Homo sapiens: one gene and its partner. The protein of the gene in region 2 interacts with the protein of the main gene of each other region in a pairwise test. Each region holds a gene or a part of one and is shown on either strand. Other genes may lie near its edges.

Region 1 (10,537 bases), on a different chromosome or scaffold from region 2:
GTGAACCCGGGAGGTGACGCTTGCAGTGAGCAGAGATCGCGCCACTGCACTCCAGCCTGGGCGACAGCGCGAGACTCTGTCTCAAAAAAAAAAGAATTCACAGGCCAGGGGCAGTGGCTCATGCCTGTAATCCCAGAATTTTGGGAGGCCAAGGTGGGTCGATCACCTGAAGTCAGGAGATCGAGACCAGCCTGGTCAACATGGTGAAACCCTGTCTCTATTAAAAATACAAAATTAGCCAGGCATAGTGGTGCACACCTGTAATCCCAGCTACTCGGGAGGGTGAGGCAGTAGAATCGCATGAACCTGGAAAGTGGAGTTTGCAGTGAGCCAAGATCGTGCCACTGCACTCCACAACAGAGCGAAACTCTGTCTCAAAAATAAAGAAAATAAAAGAAAGAATTCACAGCCTGACTCAGTGGCTCACGCCTGTAATCCCAGCACTTTGGGAGGCCAAGGCGGGTGGATCTCTTGAGCTCAGGATTTCAAAGCCAGACAGGGAAACATGGCAAAACCCCATCCTAAAAAAAAATACCAAAATTAGCTGGGTGTGGTGACATGCACCTGTGGTCCCAGCTACTCAGGAGGCTGAGGTGTATCACTGGAGTCCAGGAAATCAAGGCTGCAGTGAAACATGATTGCACCATTGTGCTCTAGCCTGGGTGACAGAGTTGAGACCCTGTCTCAAAAATAATAAAATAAAAATAAAGAATTCACATCTGGGCCGGGTGTGGTGGCTCATACCAGTAATCCCAGCACTTTGGGAGGCCAAGACAGGAGCACTGCTTGAGCCCAGGAGTTCAAGACCAGCCTGGGGAATACAGTGAGACCCTGTCTCTACAAAAATAAAAATTAGTTGGGTGTGGTGGCACACGCCTGTGGTCCCAGCTACTCAGGAGGCTAAGGTGGGAGGATTGTTTGAGCCTGGGAGCTCAAGGCTACAGTAAGCTTTGGCTGTACCACTATACTCCAGCCTAGGTGACACAGCGAAACCCTGTCACAAAAAAATAAATAAGTAAAAGACAAGAAAGAGCCAGGCGTGGTGGCTCACACCTGTAATCCCAACACTTTGGGAGGCTGAGGCAGGCGGATCACTTGAGGTCAGGAGTTCAAGACCAGCCTGGCCAACATGGTGAAACCCCATCTCTACTAAAAATATAAAAATTAGCTAGGCGTGGTGGCACATGCCTGTAGTTCCAGCTACTTGGGAGGCTGAGGCTGCAATGAGCCAAGATCATGCCACTGTACTCCAGCCTGGACAACAGAGCAAGACTCCATCTCAAAAAAAAGGAAAGAAGAATTCGCATCTGTCCAATATGTTAGTTTTGGGAGCATTTTCAAATGTGTAATATTTTATCGAAATAACAACAAAAAAAGTCTGCAGGTAGTTTGATGACCTATCATTATAATTCCCATTTACAGCTGAGGAAACTGGGATACATGAAGTGATTTAAGCTTATTCTACCAACAAGAAGAACACAATCCAAGGTCTCTTTGCCCCAAGTGTCCCTCTGCTTCAGGAACCCTACCACTCTGCATGCACGCACACACACACACACACCCTTGTGCTCACACACATACACCCTATGTTCATACATATGCACCACTGTGCTCACACACACCCCTATGTTCATACATACACACACCACTGTGCTCACGCACACACACCCCCACTGTGTTCATACATACACACCACTATGTTCACACACACCCACACACCCCACTGTGTTCATACATATACACCCAGACTCCAGCCTGGGTGACAGAGCGAGACTCTGACTCAAAAAAAAAAAAAAAAAAAAAAATTAATGAAATGAAAGCAAAGGCCAGAGAAGCAAAGGGCATCATCTTTGGTCACTTTACCTCCCCTGGTTTTATCATGTGAAATTCAGCCAGGTGGGGAAAGCTTACAGTGATGAAGAAAGTTAAGAAAAAAAAAAAACACCAAGCACTAAAAAGGGAAAAGGAATGTGTGGAATTAGATAGATGGTAGTTGCACAAAACAGAGAATACATTAAAAATCACTGCACTGCACGCTTTAAAATGGGGCATTTGATGTGATGTGACTTACATTTCAATTTTCTAAAAGAGAAAAAGAATGTGGTAGAAAAAGCAATAGGTCTGGGTGCACAGAATGAAGGACAGCCAAGAAAGAAATGTCAATTACTCTCAGTTCTCAAGTGTTAAATAAAGTTCCTATGAATACAGACGAGGGTAGCACATTAAGGAAAAATGGGATGGAGGGAAGAAAACAGAGGTTTTTTCCTTGCAAAGGTTTATAAGGGATGTTTTACCGAGAGATGGGCAACAGGAAACCCTGGCAGTGCTGGCCAGATCAGCAGGGTCAGGTCCCATCCCCATATACAGGCGCAGAAGCCCCAAACAATACCAGCAAAGAGGGTCCTGAGGTGAAGGGACCAGCCTACAGGAACAGTCCACGTCATATTCAGGGAAATAAATAGTATCTTGGTGGCCCAGCATAGTGGCTTACGTCTGTAATCCCAGCACTTTGGGAGGCCAAGGAGAGCAGATCATTTGAGCCCAGAAGTTAAAGACTAGCCAGGGCAATGCCATGAAACCCTGTCTCTACAAAAAACAAGCCGGTCATGGTGGTGCGCACATGTAGTCCCAGCTACTTCAGGGGCTGAGGTGGGACGATCACTTGAACACGAGGCTGCACTGAGCCACGACTGTGACACTGCACTCCAACCTAGGCAACAGAGCAAGATCCTGTCTCAAAAATTAAATAAATACATAAATATTTTTTTAAAAAGAAAACATTAACAACCAGACAAAACAAATGCATCTATTTGGCCTTTGGGTGACTTATTTATAGATATGCTTTCAGAATTAAGGAAAGCGGATGTTGCTTAGGCAACAACAAAAAATAAAAGATAAAAATAAACCCTGCGAAAATTTCTTTTTTTTTTTTGAAACAGAGTCTCACTCTGTTGCCCAGGCTGGAATGCAGTGTCGCAATCTCGACTCACTGCAACCTCTGCCTCCCGGGATCAAGCGATTCTTCTGCCTCAGCCTCCCAAGTAGCTGGGACTACAGGTGCACACCACCACGCCTGGCGAATTTTTGTAATTTTAGTAGAGACGGGGTTTCACCATACTGGCCAGGGTAGTCTCAAACTCCTGACTTCATGATCCACCCGCCTCGGCCTCCGAAAGTGCTGGGATTATAGGTGTGAGCCACCGCGCCCAGCCGAAAATTTCTTTAATAAAACTTGCCAGAGCATGGTTAAGAAAAATTAAAAGTATTGATTTATTAAAAGGCACTACCAAAAAATAAAGTTAAGCCATAGATTAGGAAAAAATATTTGCGACACATATATATCTGGCAAACGGCTTGTATAAAAAATACGTCAGCCTGGGCAATAGAGCAAGAGCAAGACTCCATCTGAAAAAAAAAAAACATGTAAGGAACTGCTGGGCGTGGTGGCTCACGCCTGTTAATACCAGCACTTTGGGAGGCCAAGACGGGCGGATCACGAGGTCAGGAGATCGAGACCATCCTGGCTAACATGGTGAAACCCATATCTAATAAAAATACAACAAAAAAAAAAATTAGCTGGGCGTGGTGGCAGGCGCCTGTAGTCCCAGCTACTCCAGAGGCTGAGGCAGGGGAATGGCGTGAACCCGGGAGGCAGAGCTTGCAGTGAGCCGAGATCGCGCCACTGCACTCAAGCCTGGGCAACAGAGGAGACTCCATCTCAAAAATAAATAAATAAATAAATATGTAAGGAACTTAAAAATACAAACAATCCAATTTTTTAAATGGGCAAAAGTCTTGAACAGACACTTTACAAATCCAGGCATACAAAGACCGACAAGCATGTAAGCGCTCACCATTATGAGTCATCAGTGAAATGCACATTAAAACTAACAAGATGCCACTATACCCCGCTAGAATGGCTCAGATGAAAAAGACAGGCAAGGCCAGGCACGGTGGCTCACGCCTGTAATCCCAACACTTTGGGAGGCCGATGGGGGGTGATCACCTGAGGTCAGGAGTTCAAGACCAGCCTGACCAACATGGAGAAACCCATCTCTACTAAAAATACAAAATTAGCCCGGCATGGTGGCCCATGACTGTAATCCCAGATACTCAGGAAATTAAAGCAGGAGAATTGTTTGAACTCGGGAGGCAGAGGTTGCAGTGAGCTGAGATCGTGCCACTGCACTCCAGCCTGGGCAACAAGAGTGAAACTCCATCTCAAAAAAAATAAAAAATAAAGTATTGAAAGTAGTCAAAATCATAGAAACAAAGTAGAAAAGATGGTTACCGGGGGAGGGCGAGGGAGGAGGAGATATCAGTATTTGGGGGCTACAGTCTCAGCGCTGCCAGATGAAAGAGTTCCAGAAATGTGGAACAACGATGTGCATATCCTTAACACTACTGAATTGTGAACTTTTAAATGGTTAAAATGGTACATCTTTGAAAAAAATTGAAGTGGCGCGAGGTTTCCCCAAGAAAAAGTAATGATAGGATTAAACAGCATTATCATGATTCACTTGAAGCTGCAGCTTTAAGTACTGCAAGGTGATTCAAAGCTTATACCGCGAAGCAAAAAAACTGAGTTAGAATCTTGACTTCACAGCTGTGTAACTTTGGTTTCTGAAACTTCCCCTCTCTCACCCTCAAATTCCTCAACAGTAGAATCTCAGTAACAGTACCTATTTTACTTTTTTTTTTTCTTTTTGAGATGGGAGTCTCACTCTGTCGCCCAGGCTGGAGTGCCGTGGCTCGATCTGGCTCACTGCAACCTCCGCCTCCCGGGTTCAAGTGATTCTCCTACCTCAGCTTCCCAAATACCCGGGACTACAGAAGCATACTACCACACGCGGCTAATTTTATATTTTTAGTAGAGACAAGGTTTCACCCATGTTGGCCAGGCTGGTCTCAAACTCCTGACCTCAGGTGATCCGCCCTCCTCAGCCTCCCAAAGTGCTGGGATTACAGACATTAGCCACCAAGCACAGCCTTTTATTTTTTTAAGAAACAAGGTCTCACTATATTGCCCAAGCTAGTTTGAACTCCTGGGCTCAACTGATTCTCCCACCTCAGCCTTCGGAGTAACTGAAACTACAGACACATATGACATCCGCAGGGTTTACAGTACCTATTTTCTCTGGAACAGTGCAAACATCACTCTGATCAGTTTTAGTAGCAGCATAGTGAACTTCAGAGAAGCCTGAACATAAATTTATGTTATGCAACTGAAGTCAGGGAACAATCTATGGTTTAAATGAAGGTAACAGATATTTTAGAACCAAGGAAGTAACTCAGTTCACGTATGCACGTAACTCAGCTTAACATGTTTGCTCCATATCCGTTGCTTTAAGTTCAGATAGCACTTTTCAAATTCAAAAAGCATATATGCAAACTGCTTTCATCTGCCTCCAAAAATTAGTTAAAACTAAAAAAAAATCATAATTCATTTCTGATCCATGAGTATACTAACTAGGAGGCTACAGAGTACAACGCCACAAAGGATGCCTTGGGAGAACGAATGAAGATCATCTCGAAATAGCCTCCATCCTTAAGAGGTAATATTCTCAGGAAACAGGCAACAGGCCGGGTGCAGTGGCTCAAACCTGTAATCCCGACACTTTGGGAGGCCACGGCAGGCAGATGGCTTGAGCCCAGGAATTCGAGACCAGCCTGGGAAACACAGTGAGACCCCCGTCTCTACATAAACTATATTTAAAAAAAAAAAAGTTAAAGGTCATTAGTAACCTCCTAGAAGCAAAATCCATAGAGACTTCTCAGTCCAACCCATCACTGACTTCTTAGCCAATTTGCTACTGATCTCCTCCCTCCTCTTCTCTTGGTTTCCCAGGACCCTCTCCTCTTAGACCCACTCCCCATCTCTACCAGATGGACATCACACCCGACTGGCTCAACGATATGATGCAGTCTCTGGAATCTTTACCTCCAGCCTCAGCCTCTGTCTTGAGCTCCAAAGATGTATCTCTAACTGCCCACTAGTCCACTTGGCTGCCCCACAAGCACTTCAGATTTAACATGTCCAAAAACAAACTCATAATCTCATCCTTCTCCCATTTTCCCTCCTTGGATGAGTGTCACCAGCCAGTGAATCACCCAAATTAGAGATGAGGATCATTCTAGATGCATTCCTTCAACAAACATTTACTAAGTTCCTATTACACGCCAAGCACCGACACTGAATACAAGAGACAAAACTCCCCATCCTTGTGGAGGTTATGAATGTTAAGTGGAGACAAACAATAAAAATTTTAAAATGATTAAAATAATACAGTATTGGCCAGGCACGGTGGCTCAGGCCTGTAATCCCAGCACTTTGGGAGGCTGAGGCAGGTGGATCACTTAAGGTCAAGAGTTCGAGACCAGCCTGGCCAACATGGTGAAATCCTGTCTCTACTAAAAATACAAAAATTAGCTAGGTGTGGTGGCACATGCCTGTAGTCCCAACTACTTGGGAGGCTGAGGCAGGAGAATGGCTTGAACCCGGGAGGCAGAGGATGCAGTGAGCTGAGATCATGCCACTGCACTCCATCCTGGGTGACAGAGCGAGACTCCGTCTCAAAAAGTAATAATAAAAAAAAAATAATAATAATACAGCATTTAAGATAGTGAGGTGTGCTAAGGAGAAAAATCAGGGCAGAGGCTAAGGAGTATGTGGGGAAGTGAAGAAATGCTAATCACTACAAGAATGGGTTTGGTTCAGAACTCCAGATGCACCTGGAAGTGCTTGAGTAGGGCCAGAGCAGGAAGATGAAAAGAGACAGGGTGGGGTGCTCAGAGGACACTGACAAAAGCTTTAACAGAGGAGTGACTCAGGTTTTCACAGGATCATTCTGGGGAGTCCTCCCTGCAGCTCCTCATTTACCCCAATCCAGTCAGCCCCAAATCAGCTCCACTATAACCCTTACAGCCCAGCCCCTGCCCCCACCTAGCTTCTCTGTTCCTTCTGTCACTGCCCTAATCCTGAGGCTTGCCGAGTTGGGGTTAATGGCTTCCTAATTAACCTCATCCCAGTTCACAGCACCTGCCCCACCACTGCCTATGCTCTTTCTAAAGTGGCAACTGGCTCCTCAGAATCTTCCAACCCTCCGGCCAGGCGCGGTGGCTCACGCCTGTAATCCCAGCACTTTGAGAGGCCAAGGCGGGCGGATCACGAGGTCAGGAGATGGAGACCATCCTGGCTAACGTGGTGAAACCCCGACTCTACTAAAAATACAAAAAATTAGCCGGATGTGGTGGCACGCACCTGTAGTCCCAGCTACTCGGGAGGCTGAGGCAGGAGAATCACTTGAACCTGGGAGGTAGAGGCTGCAGTGAGCAGAGGTCGTGCCACTGCGTTCCAGCCTGGGTGACAGAGCAAGACTCCATCTCAAAAAAAAAAAAAATCTTCCAACCCTCCTTTGTAAACCTCAGAATGAAAGCAGACTTCTAAGAAGTCATTCAAGGCCTTTCCTAACCTCGTCTTTCCACACTCACTCCCATGTCCCCTTCCCAACATGCCCCTTTACAGCAGCACAACCTCAGGATTTATTTCCTCCAAGCAGGAACCCCAATCCCAATCCCACCCCTGACCCCCTGACACTGGCTGATTGGTACTTTTCTTTTGTGAAGAATCGCCTCCTCAGTGCACTCCACAGCCTTTAACCTGGTCTGTGGTACCTGCCCATGCCAGCCTGTGAGCTCCTAGAGGACAGAGTTTTTTTGTTTTTTGGTTTTATTTTTTTTGAGGCAGAGTTTTGCTCTTGTTGCCCAGGCTGGAGTGCAATGGCGTGATCTCGGCTCACTGCAACCTCTGCCTCCCCAGTTCAAGCGATTCTCCAGCCTCAGCCTTCTGAGTAGCTGCGATTAGAGGCACCCGCCACCACACCCGGTTTTGGTTTTTTTTGTATTTTTAGTAGAGACAGGGTTTCACCATGTTGTCCAGGCGGGTCTCAAACTCCTGACCTCAGGTGATCGGTCCATCTTGGCCTCCCAAAGTGCTGGGATTACAGGAGTGAGCCACTGCACGGCTGACAGCGGCTCTTTTTGTTTGTTTTGAGACGGAGTCTGGCTGGACTGCAGTGACGTGATCTCGGCTCACTACAACCTCCACTTCCCGGTTCAAGCGATTCTCCTTCCTCAGCCTCATGAGTAGCTGGAATTACAGGTGTGCACCACCACACCTGGCTAATTTTTGTATTTTTGGTAGGGACGGGGTTTCACCATGTTGGCCAGGCTGGTCTTAAACTCCTGACCTCAGGTGATCCACCTGCCTCGGCCTCCCAAAGAGCTAGGGGCGATCTGCAGCCTCAGCCTCCCAAAGAGTTAAGATTACAGGCATGACCACGCCCGGCCAACAGTGGCTCTTTTATCAAGGTATCGCTGACTACTCAGCACAGTACCTGCCATTCAGTTGGTTCCCAACAGACATTTAAGACCAGTATTTGCAATCTTAATGTGCTTGTCACTTTTATTCTATGCCCTGAAATTTGACACTTAAATCTTCCCAAATACTCTCGTCTTGAGTATATTACTGATCATTTCTTTGCTACATAAAATACTGGTTTCAGCCCAGGTGCAATGGCTCACACCTGTAACCCTAGCACTTTGGGAGGCTGAGGCGGGTGGATCGCCTGAGGTCAGCAGTTTGAGACCAGCCTGGCCAACATGGTGAAGCCCCGTCTCTACTAAAAATACAAAAAATCAGCCTGGTGTGGTAGTGGGCACCTGTAATCCCAGCTACTAGGGAGGCTGAGGCAGGAGAATCACTGGAACCTGGGAGGCGGAGGTTGCAGTGAGCGGGGATCACACCACTGCACTCTAGCCTGAGCCACACAGTGAGACTCATCTCTAAATAAATAAAAATAAAATACTGGTTTCTAACATTCCACTTATCTACAAAGAATGTTTTCAGGTGATACTAATCATACATTTCACTCAACTTTTGATTTTTCTATCCTAGGTTTCTTTTTATACAAGTATGTTTTAAGATAATTTATGGCCCTATACAGAAAGTTACACATTGACTTTTTTCCAACATTGAGAAACATGCCTAAGAATGTATAAATTTTAAAAATGTATAAATTTGGGCCAGGTGCGGTGGCTCACGCCTGTAATCCCAGCACTTTGGGAGGCCGAGGTGGGCGGATCACGAGGTCAGGAGATCAAGACCAACCTGGCTAACATGTTGAAACCCCATCTCTACTAAAAATACAAAAAATTAACCGGGCGTGGTGGCGGGCGCCTGTGGTCCCAGCTACTCAGTAGGTTGAGGCAGGAGAATGGCGTGAACCCGGGAGGCGGAGCTTGCAGTGAGCCGAGATCGCGCCACTACACTCCAGCCCGGGCGACAGAGCGAGACTCCATCTCAAAAAAAAAAAAAATGTGTAAGTTTAAACGACTGCAGTTATTTGCTATGAAATACTGAAGATACTGTGTGCCTCTCCCCAGTGTCATTCCCTCCCCCCTTGCTGGAGATAAACGCTGTCCAGAGTCCTGTGCATGTCTGGATGCTTTTCTCTAAGACAATGCCAAGGCTGCAGTAGGGTTAGAGGTTACCACCTGGGTCCTCCACAGCACTCAGTGCCAGACAGGGCTGCCAGGCTCAACTGCAACATGATGCTGCATTCTTTGATGACTTGGAGAGACACTGGCTCTTTAGAGTGCCTACCCTCCCACACAGAATTCCATACAAGTTGAAATATACTTCATACTTAGTATCATTGTATTCCTACAAATATTTAGGAAACAGAGCAATAGGTCAAATTTCTCACCATAACAGGCTTGCTGACAATCCCTGAAAGAAGCAAGGCCATGTCTGTAATATAACTTCAGGAGGTTCTTCCAGTTTTCTAAAGTGTCTTTCACTAAACTAGTGCAATGTATTCCGAGCTGATTCTGATCAATGGCTTAGTCATGCCGTACCAAAAAAAAAGGCCTTGGGATTTAACTAATGCAAAGAATCAAAGCTCTAACTGCCCTTTTACAGAACACCTGAAATAGTATATCTCAAATTTTTTGTTCTCACATTTTTAAAAAACATCATTTTTGTAAGTATTCCTTTTCAAACGCTTAATATGTAAATTCTTAATTCATTTAAATAATAAAACAGTAACAGGCAGCAACAATTCTAATACAAATATACCTAGAAATGACCTACAAATGTTAAGTTATAAAACCATCCACTCCATCACGCATTAATTTCACTACTTTTACGCTTTATTTTAATTTTCTTAAGGAAAAGGGTACACCCAATTTTACATGGAAAAAGCATTCCAGGACGGAGGCTGCTTCAAGTTTAGTTGGAGCAACGCCAGCCTAGGTGAACAGGGTCGCCTGAAACGTTTCGCATCTGGTTACTGAAAATAAGGGGTCGCCAAGGAGGCAAAGCGGAGCCAGCTCTCGGGAGGGACCCGGCCCCCCGCCGCCCGCGAGAATGACAGGCGCGTCCGCTCAGGGCGGTGCCGGGAGAGGCGGGGGTGGAAGGAAGAGGAGGAATCGGACAAAGCCAGCCCCGCCGGGCCTCCGGCCTCCCCGCCCGCCG
Region 2 (10,537 bases):
GAAGGGCAAGGATTTGCAGTTTGTGCCTAGTGTAATATTTCGATTTCCCTAATTTATGAGTTATTACTCTTGAGTGGGACATGACAGTTGTTTTATCTTGTCATCCAGGATCATCTGGTTTAAGTATTTATAATTTTTGTGTGTGAATGAAACTTACAAGGTCAAGCTGCTTAAGTAGGCTTGCCCAATAACTAGATGCCACACAATCTTTGGCTTTTACTATTATTTGTAGTTGTGTTACAGGGCGTTAAATTCTAACTCCAAGAAAGTTGGTTGGTGAGGGAGCAGTACTTACATTCTAAATGGATAAGCAAAAAACTTTATATTTGACTTTGGACTACATGATGTGTCTGTGGACTTTAGTTTTGTTTTTTTCATGGGGTCTCCGTAGAGTACGGCATTAAAATTGTAGGTTCTACTCCCTCAGCTCGTGAGCTTGGCAGCACAGGGAGGTGGCAGGAGGAAATCCATGAATCAGCGTGAGTGTTAATTGTCTGTAGATATGCCATAAAAACATAAGCAGGTGGAGTATTTCTTTCTTTTTTTTTGAGACGGAGTCTCGCTCTGTCGCCCAGGCTGGAGTGCAGTGGCGCGCGATCTCGGCTCACTGCAACCTTCGCCTCCCGGGTTCACGCCATTCTCCTGCCTCAGCCTCCTGAGTAGCTGGGACTGCAGGCGCCCGCCACCATGCCCGGCTAATTTTTTTGTATTTTTAGTAGAGACCGGGTTTCACCCTGTTAGCCAGAATGGTCTTGATCTCCTGACCTCATGATTCGCCAGCCTTGGCCTCCCAAAGTGCTGGGATTACAGGCATGAGCCACCGCGCCCGGCCAGCAGGTTGAGTATTTCTTATCTGAAATACTTGCTTTGGAGTTCAGATTTTTATTCAGATTTTGGAATATATGCATTATATACTGGTGTAGTATCTGAAAATCTGAAATCCAGAATTCTCCAATGAACATTTTCTTTGAGTAACATGTTGGCACTCAAAAAGTTTCAGATTTTGGAACATTTCAGATTTTGGGTTTTGGGGTTAGGTATACTCAACTTGTGGTTGGATTTTTACTGTTTGTGGGCAAAGCTCTTTGAACAAGTCCTGTGGAGGCAGTGAGAGTTTATAGGTTGTGGACACTGTCATCTAAAATTATATAATGGTGATATTGATCCTATTACTTTAAGTCTATAAACAGGATTTGACGGTTCCCTTACTTGAATTTTCTGATTAACTTATTGTTTAACATCAATTTTAATACTGTTTTAGCAGCTTCCAGTAAGCATGTAGAGACAGATGGATATAGTTACTTGTGCAATAAGGTTAAACTCTTATTTTAGTTTTTTTTTTTTTTTATCAGCTGTTTTGATTTTCTTTCAAGTATAGGTCTGGATAGTTAGTAGTTCTTCTAAAGGTGAAAAAGTTGAGGAGTAATCACAAAAACTTGATTTGATCCTATATGTCTTTGTAGTGACCACAAAAGAAGAGGGTGTCCTCAACTTTTTTAGCTTGATTTAAGCTAGACTTCACAGGGAAGCCTTATGATCTAAGGCCTGGTTTCTGAGTCTTGCAGATTGACATACCCCTGAGAAATCTGAAAATCAGATCACTCGTTTTTTACTATTTTAATCTCAAAACCAGAATTACCACTTTTTCCAGTTTATAAAATACTAGGGAATTCTAGTATTGTATATTCTAGGATATCTGTTTCACCAGTCAAAATATCAATATCAGTGTTGACGTATGTTGGAAACCCTACTACTAATGAAGTCATTTGGTGATTAAAGCAGAGAGAATTAAATATCTTTAAGGAATAAAACTTAGGCATCCTAATGAGTCATACTTCTTCACTGGAGTTTTGCCTGCCAACACTTTCTACAGGGCTCCATCTGCTGGTCAGTTCTCCTGTTTCTCTGAGCAGGCCTTTGTATAGACTTAGTTTTTTCTTTCTCAGATAGAAGACCCAATTAAGTTTTGTTGTGTTGTATTTAATTCCTATTTCTATATTACTGTATAATTCCACATAGTGATTCCACTTAAGATAAACTAGTTTTTATAGAAAGGTAAACCATATTTTGTATCCTCATCAATATGTAACATTTGTTGGCCTTTTTGGCTCCAGCAGCCAAGTTGCTTTCAGGCAATAGTTCACAGTGATTTGCTTTTCCATTCCTAGTAAAAATGATTTTAATAATAACTGACAACATTCCGTTACTTCCTATGTGCCAGGCACTGTTCTAAGTACTTTATATTATCTCACTTATTCCTCCCCGCAATCCTGTGAGGCAAGTAAGTATATATATTATATATATTATAGGTTGAAAACTGAAACTTAGAAAGTTGAACTTTCCCAAGATAGCAGAGCTGGGATTGCAACCCAGGTCCCTCTGAATTCAGAGTTCTTATCCTTAACCACCACAAATAGTTCATGGCACTTTATTCTATAGGTAAACATTTGGTTGCTATCTCTCTCATTGCAGTATCTTGAACGTTGTCACCAGAAGAACTTATGAATATACCTGAACAACTTGACTCTTTATTCTGTGTGCTAAGCTGTCTTTTTCTTGAAACTATGCGCTTGACTTCCACAATATCACCTTTATCTTATTTTCCTGTTTCTCTCCTAGCTATTCTTACTCTGTCTATTAAATGTGGAGATTTTCTTGTCTTCTCTTTTTTAATTTCCTTCATATGTGTATTACCTGCCCCTGAAGAAATTTTACCCATTCCTATGATTTCAACCACCACTACTTCCAAATCTCATCTTCTGCTTGTAGATCTTTTCAGTTGTCTACCTAAGAGGCACTCTTGGATATATTCAATTAAATCTCTATATATTATTTTCAGTCTCTCCTTAAACATACTGAACCTGTTTTCTTCCTGTCTTCTGCCATAAACATTGCCTTTCAAACTGCTTAGTCAGCAGCTTCCAGACTACTCTCTCTATTGTAGCTCTCATACTTCAGCCCACCCTCCCTTCCTATCATGAGTTAGGCTTTCTAAAACCCGCATTGGATTGTTTCTTTCCTTTGCTCAGCAACTTCCATCTGCTCCCTGATTCCCATAGCTAAATTTCTAAGTCTTTTTTTTTTTTTCCCCCAAAAAGGAGTCTCGCTCTCTTGCCCAGGCTGAAATGCACTGGCACAATCCTGGCTCACTACAACCTCCACCGCCTGAGTTCAAGTGATTGTCTTGCCTCAGCTCCGCAAGTAGCTGGGATTACAGGCACCCACCACCATGCCTGGCTAATTTTTGTATTTTTAATAGAGACAGGATTTCACCATGTTGGCCTGGCTAGTCTCGAATTCCTGACCTGAAACGATCTGCCCACCTCGGCTTCCCAAAGTGCTAGAATTACAGGCACGAGCCACTGCGCCCGGCCCTAAATTTAAAAGTCTTTTTTCCTTCTGTGACAGCATGATGAATTACATGGCATTCAAATGTATGGCATACTGTCCCTTTGTATACTCAGGATGATATTTAGTTCTATATTTGGGTTTCTATAATCTCTTTGTCAAAAAATGTCAGGATACAAATCAGTGAGAAAAACATTAAAAGAATAACATTAAAGCTATTCTAATTTCAAAAAACGTGTCATTCATAAATCTTAGCATTTTAACTTTTTGATAACTTACTATCCTCCCAACTACTAGTTTAAACTTTGGACAAAGCAATGTAACCTTAACCTGTTTTTACCAGTGTTATTCTCTCCCATCCTCTCTCTTACCACTTTTAATATCCTATATACCAGATGGACTGTGCTTGTTCTTGTTTTCCTAAAATACAGTGTTTTCTTTTTGTTTCCCCAAGACGGAATCTTGCCCTGTTGCCCAAGCTGGAGTGCAGTGGTGTGATCTTGCTCACTGCAACCTCCGCCTCCCAGGTTCAAGCAATTCTCCTGCCTCAGCATCCCGAGTAGCTGGGATTACAGGTGTGTGCCACCACACCTGGCTAATTTTTGTATTTTTTAGTAGAGACGGGGTTTCGCCATGTTGGCCAGGCTGGTCTCGAACTCCTGACCTCGTGATCCCCCCGTCTCGGCCTCCTAAAGTGATGGGATTACAGGCGTGAGCCACTGCGCCTGGCCAAATACAGTGTTTTCTAACCCTGTGCCTTTGTGGGTGATATTTATTTTCTTTTTTATTTTTATTTTTTTTGAGACGAGGTCTCACTCTGTCACCCAGGCTGGAGTGCAGTGGTGTGATCTAGGCTTATTAAAACCTCCACCTCCCAGGCTCAAGCAATTCTACCTCAGCCTCCCAAGTAGCTGGGACTACAGGCGCAGGCCACCACGCTTGGCTAATTTTTGTATTTTTTGTAGAGACACGCAGGGTTTCACCATGTTGCCCATGCTGGTCTCGAACTCCTGAACTCAAGTGATCTGCATACCTCAGCCTCCCAAAGTGTTGGAATTACAGTTGTGAGCCACTGCGCCTGGCCTCTGTGATATTCCTTCTTTTTTTAGTTTTTTTGTGAGCTTTCACTTACCTTTACCTTACCTTACTTACCTTCCCTATGAAACCCGCTCCAAGCCCCTGAAACCATATTATCTCCCTGAGGAAATAATATTTTCTACAGGCTTATTTTTGCTCTATATCAAGGGTTGGCAAACTTTTTCTGTAATGGGCCAGATAATATGTATTTTAGGGTTGGCAGGTGGTATGGTCTGTCACAACTACTGAACTTGCCTGTTTTAGTGCAAGAGCAGCCATAGACAGCATTTCAACAAATGAGTGTGGCTATATTTCAATGCAACTTTATTTACAAAAATAGGCAGAGGGCCAGATTTGGCCAGTGGGCCATAGTTGCCAACTCCTGGTACCATATGTACCATGATGTACGCTAAGAGCTCCTCAAGGAGGTCAAGGACTGTGTTTTATCACTCTCTCCATTCTCAGTATCTTACATTTGTTGAATGAACAGCCAGAAGAGTTATTTGAACTTGCAGGATCTACAAAACTACAATTTCTCCTATCCTTCATTTTTTTAAGGCCTAAAGATAATTCCCTAACTTTGGCAAAAACACCACATACCCAGATACTTAAACACATATCCTACCAGTTTTATATTGACTCACTATTTTTTTTAAAGAGATCATATTGAGTACCTTTGAGAATTTTAAAAATATTTATTATAATATATATTGCTAAAATATAGAAATCAATAGTGTCAGCATTAGAAGATTTATTTTGGTTCTGCATGTTTTTCAGTTTTGAAAAAATATAAAAGTGTAAGATGTTTCTCTTGGAATTTCAGAAGATAGGAAGGAAAACAGTAGTGCATTTAAATGGATATGGATTTTTTAAACATTCTTTGTTAAACCTTAAAGACTCCTAAGACTCTGTTCTGAATATCATTCCATTTTTCCCTAATACATTTTTAGTCTTTAATGTACTTTTCCTGGGTAATGGTACTTCACCTACTACTTATATGCTAATAAGTTCAGTCATCTCAGTCTGAGCTCTGAAATATCTAATTGCTACTGTGTAGTTCCACTTATCTGTCAAACATAACTGTAAATTAATTGTGTAAAGCTGAATTCATCTTTGTTTCCTTCTCATAGCCCTTTCCTCCTTTTTCCTCTTTAAGCCCCAGCCTTTTCTACTACTTCGTTCCCTACCTTGTGAGTGGTATCTGTAGTCACCTAAGCCATGAAACTAAGAACCATATCAAGTTCTTTCCTGTTACTCACCCTTTAAACCCAGGTTATCAAGTCCCTGCCTTCTGAGTGGCCCCTACATGTTAGATCTTTCTAACATCTATATCCTCTCTGCCTTAAAACAGACCCTTCTGTCCTCTATATTTGTAGTTCTACCCTCCTGATACGCCCTTTTGAACTTGTGTCTCCCTAATCTGAAAACCAAAAGGAAAGCAACATGAAACCTTATGTAGACTCCAACATCTCCCTCTAGCTGTTACCCTGACTACCATGTCTCCCTCCAGCTATTAACCCTATCTCCTATCTTTTCTCTTAAATATGTTTCTTAGGAATTGTCTCGTCTTGCCTAGTCTTGATGTCTTCTTGAGAAGTGTTTCCTCACTTCTCACTCAGTCTTCAAAGTAACCTAATGTTCACCTTTCCTGCTGCTGCTCTCCTCTGCATATTCATTTTCTTCTCAGTCATGACATTTTGGAGTCCTTCAAAACTTCTGTTAGACTCTTCTCACACTATACTCTCCTTAAAGAGTGACATGCATATAGCTGCTAACCTAGGGGTTGTCTTTGACACTGTTCCCCATCATCCCATGTTTCCAGTCCATCCTCAAGACCAGATGATGTCTTTTTTATCTCTTAAATAACTTTTCAGTCCACCCACTTCTCTCGCTGCTGCCACATTAATCCAGGCTGTCGTCATTTGTTGCCTAGATTTCCAATAATTCTGTGTGTATTCCTCGTTCACCATTCTCTGACACTACTTTGTTTTCCTTCATGGCGCTTACCACTCCATGACTTTGTAGACTCCGAGCATTTGTTTGTCTGTTGACTGTTCTCCCTTAATAGAGTATAAATTTCATGTGGTCAGAGACTTTGTTTGTTCCTGTATCTCCAGTGTACCAGCGGTGCTTGCCACATAGTAGGTGCTCAATAAATATTTGTCGACTGAGTGAATAGACTATCAAGTGGGTCTACCCACATATATTCCTGACCTTTTCCAATTTATCCTGCACCCTGGAATCGAAGTGATCTTAAATGCACATCTGATACTCTGGTTTCTCTTCAGAGTCAATAGATCTTTTGCCTTTTAAATGCAAATCTGTGACACAAATACAACATAAATTCTGAAGTGGCTTACCAAACTTGTAGGATAAAGACTGAAATCTTAATGGAGCTTTCAAGGCTCTGTGTTTATCTTTTCCTTGCCTACCTCTTCTTTCTCCTTTTATTTTTTTATTTTTGCTTCATGTGTGTCACACTTTTCCTTGAATCTATTTCTTTCCTTTTTACTTAGATGACTCCTATTCACTCATCTTGTAGATGCCAGCTTAAGAATTCTTTCCTACAGAAGTCTTCCAAAACCATCTCCTACCCTCCAGAGGGTAAGTCTGCACATCATCATGGAACCATCTGCTTTTCTTCTGTGCATGTTCTTAGTTTATAGTCATACTGATATAGTGTGATTATTTGGTTAATGCTTGTCTGCTGCTCTCAATAAAAAGGAAGGAGTTTATGCCTGTTTTTCCATACCACTGAATGAATACCCAGCTCTCAGTTAAGTGCCTAGTACATATTACATGTTCAGTAAATACTTGTTGGCAGAATTAATGAATACAGTATCTTGAATATGTCAGGTTCTTTTCACTCCCCCTTGCCTTTGGTACCTGCCGCTCCCTGAAACATCTCTTTTATCTGCTTGGAGGCCTGGCTCATTCCTCGGCCTCAGGCTGATTTTTGATGACACCTCATCTGAACATATCCCCTCTCACAGCATAGTAGTTGTTAATTTACCTGTGTGTCTACCCTGTTAGATTATAAGCCTTTTGGATACATGGGTTTAAAATATTTCAAATGTATAGCTATGCGTGTTACTGTATTACATAGCTATGCCTGGCTATGCCTGTCACTCAGTAACTTACAGAAATAAAAAATTGGAAGATTCAGTGGCATAGATACATAAGTGGCAACAGTTTCCAAAAGAAGAGGGTTGTCAGTGATTTCAGATGCTGCACACAAATTGCAGAGGACAAATAGCAAAGAACTAAAAGACCTCTAAGGTCCCTTCTCATTATTAGTTTCCTTTAAATCAGGCTCTTAAAAGGCAATAACTGTTTTTTAAACCCTTGCATTATGTCTTTGACATGTTTGGAGGGAAGAATTTGTCTCCTCTCTGCCAAGGCATAAAATTAAGTTTTTGAACATATTCTTCGTAAACGTGTCTTTATTAGGAAGAAGCTTATTAAACAGTAAATATGATTATTATTACTACCTGTATTAGTCAGGGTTCTCCAGAGAAATGGAACCAGTAGGAGATATCTGTATTTCTATGTTTACATGTAGGTAGATATATATAAACAGATATAAAATGAGAACTGTCATAAGGAATTGCCTCATATGATTATGGAGATTAAGTCCCACAATCTGTTATTTGCAAGCTGGAGACCCAGGAAAGCTGGTCGTGTAAGTCTCAGTTCATGGGCGGAAGACCAGTGTCTCAGCTCAAGCAGTCAAGTAGAGAGAATTCAATTCAACCTTCCTTCAGCTTTTTTGTTCTGGTCAGGCCCTGAATGGATTAAATGATGGCAACCCACCCACCTTGGAAAGGGCAATTTGCTTTACTCAGTCCACCAATTCAAATGCGAGTCTGTTCTCTAACACCCTTGCAGATGCACCAGATATAATGTTTAGCCAGATATCTGGGCATCTGGTGACCCACTCATGTTAACGTATAAAATTAACCGTCACATCACCTTATGTCACTGCTATCCCTACCTGGAAAAATGTGTTGATTTTATCCCTTAAGATTTGAGTGGTTAAATCTCTATTGAAATATTTGATACTAATTGGAAAACAATGTTTCCATCATCTTTGTAATACTTTTTGCCAGGCATTAGATTTATAATCTTTCCAGTCTTCTGAAAAAAAAAATAGCATTCTTGGGAAGCTTTTAATTTTTAATAGACTTTGGAACAATTTACCATGATTCTTCATCATTTATTTATAGTGTCAAGCAAAACATACAGGGAAAGACTTTCTTATTTTATTCTGACAGATATAAAGAGGAATATGAAGAAAAGGTACAATATCAATGTAGAATTTGTGATAATTTTTCAGTTACCTTTTACTTAAGTCACTTTGATATGAGTATTTGCCTGCTATGCAAAACAAAGTGAGAAGCATAAAATACTGCATTTTAAGCCTATTCTTAACAAGACTGGTTTTATCTTTAATAAAAGTATCTTGAAATCTACCTTGAGAACATCGATAAGTGAATATGTATGCAAGTATCTCCACTTTTGTACCACGTTAGTTTCAAATTCTTCCAAATTTCTGTATATGCCTCCATCGTTCAGAGTATTATTCTCCAGGAACCAGTCATAGCCTTTCTTTTCTACCCCTCTGATGTCCTTTATGTGTTTGAATCTGTCTTAGGCTGTGTCGACATAAAGGAATATCTGAGACTGGGTAATTTATAAAAGAAAAAAAAAGCTTACTTGGCTCACAATTTTGATGTCTGGAAAAGTTCAAGATTGGGCATCTGCATCTGGTAAGGTGCAGACTGCTTCCACTAGTGGCAAAAGGTGAAGGGAAGCCACTGTGTGCAGAAATCACACGGCAAAAGAGGAAGCAAGGAGGGAGTGCCAGGCTCTTTTTAACAACCTGCTTTCATGGGAACTCACTCATAACCATGAGGATGAGGTTGGTACCAAGCCATTCATGAGGGATCCACCACTGTTACCTAAACACTTCCTATTAGGCCCCACCCCTAACAATGGAGATCAAATTTCAACATGAGATTGTTAGGGGACAAACATCCAAGCTATAACACAATCCACTTTCACATCTTCAGTAGTAGTAGAGTGGATACGCAGAAGCCTACTTTACTTCATTTAGAGACAGCTCACAGGACCATAAGAATTACATGTAAATGAATGTCCATGGATGACTTGGAGGAACTCTAGACTGTTAAGAGGAAAAAGTACACTTCTATTTTCTTTAAATCATTGTTTTTGGAGCCTCTTTCAGCTCCTCAACTTTCACCCTAATTAACACACCTGAATATACATGTTCTTGAATAGAATAGTGGGTTGCTGCCCAAATTACTTATCGCCTTCCTTTTTCCTCCAGGGCATGTGACTGGATTCATGAACGTTAAATGCACATATTATGTGCCCGTAATCATTTTCTTCACAGCTCAACTTTATGTGATACTGCTCTATTGCTAGAGAATTCTTCCAGCTTCTCACATCACTTTGTCCTTTATCGTTTCACTGCTGGCATTTAAGTCTTATGTCTTGGATTTACCGCATTTATTTTTCTCTTGTACTTTCACTCTTGATACTGCTGCTTTCATATTACATCCCCATTGGGATTCTGACACTTCTCCCATCATCTCTTGTTTTCCAGTCCGTCTCCCAAACCAGATGATTTTTATCTTGTAAATATTTCTTTAATCCTTCCACTTCTCTCACTGACACCACCCTAGTCCATCTTATTCTTGCTTAGCCTCAAATTTGATTGCATACGTTATTCATACGTTCATTCTATACGTTTATCCCCGCTCACTGTTTAGGACTTGTATCATTCTTGGCACTTGCAGGAGCAGCTTCTTATATGAACCAAGGTTTACTTCTGGTTCAAGTCATTCATTTCTATTCCTGTGCAGTATTGTATTATATGAATAGGCCATAATTACTTCACCCTTCTGTTGATGGGCATTTAGATCATTTCCAACTTCTTTTTTTTTCTTTTTCTTTTACAAACTACCTCAATTTGTGCAAGGAGATAAATGTCTCTTTGTACACATGTGCAGAAGATTCTTTAGGTGGATATACCTAGGAGTAGAATTGCTCAGTCATAGCTTATGTACCTCTTCAAATTTACTAGAAA

Evidence for each region.
Region 1: the proteins of AP1AR (region 2) and KLC1 interact in binary tests that used the Homo sapiens proteins (3 or more experiments, as listed by UniProt).

What each region holds. Positions count from the first base shown.
Region 1 is NC_000014.9:103,629,925-103,640,461, reverse strand, and holds part of KLC1 (kinesin light chain 1), read right to left. Parts: intron 1-10,537. UniProt on the Homo sapiens protein: Kinesin is a microtubule-associated force-producing protein that may play a role in organelle transport. The light chain may function in coupling of cargo to the heavy chain or in the modulation of its ATPase activity.
Region 2 is NC_000004.12:112,233,327-112,243,863, forward strand, and holds part of AP1AR (AP-1 complex-associated regulatory protein), read left to right. Parts: intron 1-10,537. UniProt on the Homo sapiens protein: Necessary for adaptor protein complex 1 (AP-1)-dependent transport between the trans-Golgi network and endosomes. Regulates the membrane association of AP1G1/gamma1-adaptin, one of the subunits of the AP-1 adaptor complex.